Regions from separate parts of the Homo sapiens genome. Here region 2 is linked to region 1. Evidence: fine-mapped expression QTL. A gene starts in region 1. The other region holds a variant in brackets. All regions are shown on one strand. Distances are from middle to middle. Region 1 holds the start of UGP2 (UDP-glucose pyrophosphorylase 2). Region 2 has its middle 78 kb from the start of UGP2.

What was found.
Region 2: its variant is fine-mapped to the expression of UGP2 in fibroblasts (GTEx, PIP 0.98).

Annotation. Positions count from the first base shown.
Region 1 is chr2:63,840,950-63,843,449 of GRCh38, reverse strand. It overlaps UGP2 (UDP-glucose pyrophosphorylase 2), which reads right to left and starts at 1,554. Exons shown (of 10, transcript NM_006759.4): 1 at 1,246-1,554. The coding sequence starts at 1,264. RefSeq lists enhancers at 1,448-1,497, 2,368-2,500 and a silencer at 1,598-1,907.
Region 2 is chr2:63,762,181-63,765,212 of GRCh38, reverse strand. It overlaps a transcript of WDPCP not described here. Among named protein-coding and RNA genes, the nearest start is that of UGP2, 78 kb to the left of the region's middle. The variant A/C (reference allele first, on the strand shown) is at 1,603.

The sequences.
Region 1 (2,500 bases):
ACTGAATATTGTTATTACAAAACCAGTACGTTTCTAACAGTTCTGCCTTTCTATTCTTGAATAAGACATTTACTCAATCAGAACATAAGCATCTCTTACCACATATAAGGTATAACATGAATTTGAAAGTCTAATAACAAGTGACATTTCTGAGCTTAGCGCTAAAGGCAAGCATAGCGTTCGATCTGTTTCGATAATAACACAGGCAGTCGAATTCTCTTACTTTAATCTACTACACAAAATTTAAAGAAGAGTTAATAAAGCGATGTAGAACTCAGTAGGGCATTTTTATTCCCAGGGTCAAATGATGGCCATTACTGACACAACTTTTTTTTTCCAAAAGTACACCTACATTTATCAGGAAGCATAATAAGTGTTTGTGAACTTTACTAGCTGTGTGTTCATCAAGATGGCTGAAGCTTTCACACACTGGAGTCTACAAGGAAAGAGTTTACTTGCATACCAGAAGGCAAATCTCATGCTACAAACTGGTGTCAAAGGTTTATGCCAGCACCAATTTCAGTGAGTACACCGTACACACATGCATTCATATACACGTTACTGATAATCTCAGTTGAGGCATTCCCTAACCCTTTTTAAATACACATGTGGAATTTAGAGAGCAGTTTTCAAACTTCAAAGGAACCTTAATCATCTTTTCATAGTTCAAAAAAGGAAAAAATAAACACAGCAATGCAGCAAAGTCATTTCTCCAGCTGAAATGACCTCCAGCTTCTTCGGGCTACTCCCAGTTTCGCAATAAGTGAATCTGAGACGCAAACCACGTACACACAAACGAAGTAGAAGCGGAGAACACTAAAGCTTCCCCAACAGTCCCGGCAAAACCCACCCGGCTTTTCTCAGTCCTCCCGCTTCCCCAGCCCTTCCCGTCTGCGTGCACGCACAGGTACCTTGACACAGACCAGGAAAAGAGAACAAGGATTAATTAGCAGCCAAAAATCCTGTTTTATCACTTACAGCCACTATCCAGGAAAGCGACGGTACTACTAACCTGATTTCAGGGAGGCAAAACTAAACCCAGCAGGGTACAGGAGCATAAATTATACGCGTCTGGAACGTCAACCCAGCAGCTCAAGGCAGCTCAGATGACAATTCAACGAAAAGGGTTTCGCAAATGTTATCTCAAATGAACATTTCCACTTCCAAACCACCCACCAACCTCTCCACTGTCAGTACCCAAATTTGCCTGAAGCAACTCGGGATATAAGCAGCAGCATTTCTTACCTTGTACAAATCTCGACATTTTAGGGGCTTAGTAAAATACTCCGGCTTTTTTTTTTTTTTTCTAGAGGAGTCACGCTACAGGGCAGGTCTCTCTTCCTCTCCTGCTTTAACAACCGATGTATTCTTTCTCCTCCTATATTTAACTACTTAAGGGAGTATTTATTCAAAGCGATTAAAACTGGCTCAAGAAAAAAGAAAAGAAAGAAAGAAACTCCTTCCCCAATTCCAAAAGACGGAAACTTGGTGCGACTGAGTCGGTTTGGGAACTCCTGAGCTCCGGACACAAATGAGGGCCAGCTGGAGACTCCCGGAAAAGGTAAAACCACACGAACTTAAATTTCTTCAATGAAAGAGGCGGACCTACAGCGGCTATTTCACCGCCCCCAAGTCCCCACGCCCTCCAGGGCTGTACTGCAGGAGGCACTGGCAGGCCGCGCCCCTAGCTGCCCCCTCCCCGCGCCGCCGTCCAGGCCCCAAACGCCTCCCCCGAAAACCCCGGTTAACAGCGGCTCCCGCCCAAGCAGGGGTCGGGGAGGCGGGCGAGGCCGGCCAGCGGGGGCAGTGCAACCATTTTCACCAGCCATAAACATCCTGGGACTAGGAGGCGCTACCAATTCCACGCTCTGGCTGGCCGACCGGTCGGGGCCTCAGCTCCCCGCCTTCCCGCCTCGAGCAGTGAAACCCGGCCGCAGCTTTTTCTCGGTAGGGGCCGAAGGCTACGCTGCCCCTCCCCCGCAGCGGACACTAAGGGGTCACCGGCTAGAGGCAGACCCGTGCACCGGCGCGGGAGTCCCAAGGGAGGGCACCGACCCTTCCCGTACATATTCTCGCCCCGCCTGCCCTGCGCTCCTCAGAAGCCCAAATTCCGCCTCCGAGACCACACAGCGGGCCAGCGAGAGCGGGAAACACACTCATCCAGGGGGTCGCCGGAAGCCCAACCCCGCCCCTCCTCAAGCCGCCAGCGAGACCCACCTTCCTCTTCCTTTAGCAGCTGGGAAATTGGGGGCGTTTATGGCGCCCCGGGAAGAAGGCTCGCAGGCTGAAAGTCACCTCTGAGGCGCCCTTCTCTCTCTCTCTCTTCCCTCACACATGCACACCTTGAGCCCCTCCCTAACGGTCGCAGCCCAGCTGCTAACCCCCCCTTGTCCACCCGTCAGCCGGCTCCCGACACCCACAGCCCCTACTTTCTCCTAAACACCTCCCCTCCCCCTCCATTCGGAGCAGCCCCTTCAATGCGGAAATGTCCCTGCCGCAC
Region 2 (3,032 bases), 79 kb after region 1:
CTGGGTTAGAGTTCTGCCATTAAACACTGCCGTTGCCTAGTGAACTATTCCTCTGTAGTCTTTATTGTAGTCAATATTTATGTAGTCCTATTTTAAATATCTACCTTTAGACTGTAAAATTCTTGGAGACAGGGAGTATATCTGTCCTGTTTACCATTGTATCTTCCATGTTTAACAAATGCCCAGCACATAGTGCTTTCCACACATCTTTGTTGAGTGGAAAAGCTACCTTAGCCTAGTTTAGGACTCCCTCTTAGATAAGCAGCTCTTTCCATTTTCAATTTTTTATTTACCATGTTCCTACTCTACCCCATCCAAACATGACCTCAAAGAGAATCTGGGCTAGGAAAGTAATCTGAATGACAATATAACCCTGGAATCAGAAAGGTCACACCCCTTTGGTGACTTAGCCTTTGTTTCCAGCCCAAACTCCTCCTTCATGGTCTTGCCTTAAAATAGATTTTCTCCTCAGGAAGCCTCTCGGTCCATCCCCTAAATAAACGAAAGCCCCTTTACCAGCACAAATTCCTCATCAAGAAAGTCAAGGTTGTAAAGAGGCATTTCCTAAAGGCTGTCAGTGTGTAGTGTTTGTGGCTTTTTTCACATTTCAATCCATTTATATTTAATGTGCTTTTTTAATCACTTACCATATCTACTCTTTGCGTGGTGTTTGACAATTCAAAAATCATTTAAGTCTGAAAACCTTAAATACACTTAAAAACTCAGTTGACATTTTGGTCTTCCAGGATCATCCCAGGTAGCTTTCTCAGAGGCCTATGCAGAGATACACCTGCTGCCCATCTGGAGGTCAGACCATGCCCATATGTTCAGCATCAGAGGTCACCACGGCATCACTCAAAGGATCACAGGCTAGCCCTTGACTGGCCTTGCAAACCCTATTATTAAAGTTACAATTTTTATACTTTTTGGAGGAAAATACTTTTCCTGTTATTTTTCTATTACAGAGCTGATAGGATTGGTGCTTATTATGTGGAGCCAGAGATTAAATAATTCTCAGGGTGACTGCTTAATGGGTATGAGGTTTTCTTTTGGGGTGATGAAAGTGTTTTGAAACTAGAGAGAAGTGATAGTTGTATAATATTGTGAATGTACTCAAAGTCACTGAATTGCACACTTCAAAATAACTTTATCTTATGTGAATTTTACCTCAATAAAAAGTAATAACAATAACTATCAGGGAACAAGAATTGATAATTATCAATAATTATCAACTGTAGAATTCCTCTCACAAGAAAAGTCCAGGAAAAGTCCAGGAATTTTAGTCAGTCATCACTGAGGTCATAGAATTCCCTAGAGATCTGGCCATCTGTGACCCTCCCCCCAACACCACCACCCTGTACCGTTTGAAGCCAGCTGGATTTAATGTACCACTTAAAGATTCTATTTTTAAAAACAACTTCTAACAGCAATTTTTTGGCACAAATAAATAGCCATAATGGAAGAAAATGAAAATAACTCCTGACTATCTCTGAATATATCCTTTTTAGGTATATTTTTCTACATAATTTCACTAATCAAAACACTTTTTTGTGCTACATTTCCGAATATATGAGAGGAATTTTGGTTTCATGAAGTTTTAGT[A/C]ATGCTAAATTAACAACATGTGTATTTTGGATGCATTTCATGAGTTATGTTATTCTTACTGCAAATGAATTCACTTATTCCATCAACAATTTTTTTTTTTTTTTTTTTTGAGACAAAGTCTTGTTCTGTTGCCCAGGGTGGAATGCAGTGGCGCAATCTCGGCTCACTGCAACCTCTGCCTTTCAGGTTCAGGTGATTCTCTGCCTCAGCCTCCTGAGTAGCTGGAATTACAGGTGTGCCACCATGCCCAGCTAATTTTTTGTATTTTTAGTAGAGATGGGGTTTCACTATATCGGCCAGGCTGGTCTCAAACTCCTAGCCTCAAGTGATCCACCCTCCTCAGCCTCCCAAAGTGCTGGGATCACAGGCATGAGCCACCGTGCCCGGACCATCAACAAATACCTTTTTGTACTTTCTGTGTGTCAGTCAGGGTATTAGGTGCTAGGAATACTGAGAACAATAAGGCATACCCCCCAACTCAAATAAGTATGGTCTTGATAATCACATTAAATATATAGATGATCATGTTTCAAATATAGAGAGAGCTGCATCAGAAGATGAAAGTGAGCTTCAAGATATCAAGACTCTGTTTGTCATGGTCACTGTTGTATCCCAACATATATAACAGGTCTGGTATACTGGAGAAACTCAGCAAATTTTTTTTATAAATGGATGAAGCTTTCCACAATTATATACCACCTTCATTGTTTTACTTAGTTCTTATTGCTGTGGTTTGAATAGCCCCTCCAAAATTCATGTTGAAACTTAATCCGCAATGTGGCAGTATTGAGAGGTGGGGTGGAGCCCTTAAGAAGTGATTGGATCATGAAGGTTCTGCCCTCATGAGTGGTTTAATTTATTCATGGATTAATGTGTTATCATGAAAGGAGAACCAGTGGCTTTATAAGACGAGAAAAAGATCTGAGCTAGCATGTTAGTACACTCAGCTTCCTCACCAGGTGATAACCTCCTTCGGGACCCTTCAGAGAGTTCCCACTAGCAACAAGACTCTCACTGGATATGGCCTTTCAACCTGGGATTTCTCAGCCTCTAGAATTGTAAGAAATTAATATATTCTTATAAATTACCCAGTTTCAGGTATTCTGTTATAGGCAACAGAAAATGGGACTAAAGACCATACATTGTCCTGCATTGACTCAAACCAAAAATGCCCAGTTTATTGGCATAATCTGAAAGGGGTAATGAGTGCATTTTTTCTTACCCTCCTCAGTGTACAAATGTTATTTCGTGTTAGATTTTCAGATTTTCTGATTTTAATTCATTTAGCTTGCTCACATAATGATCAAAGGGCCACAGAAAAACCCTTATAGAAAAAGGCATCCATCCTCCTCTGCAGCCTCGTTGGTCCCCTCAGTCACCAACTCTTCTCTTTTCCCCAGTGATTCAGACTCCCACATTTACCTCTTCTC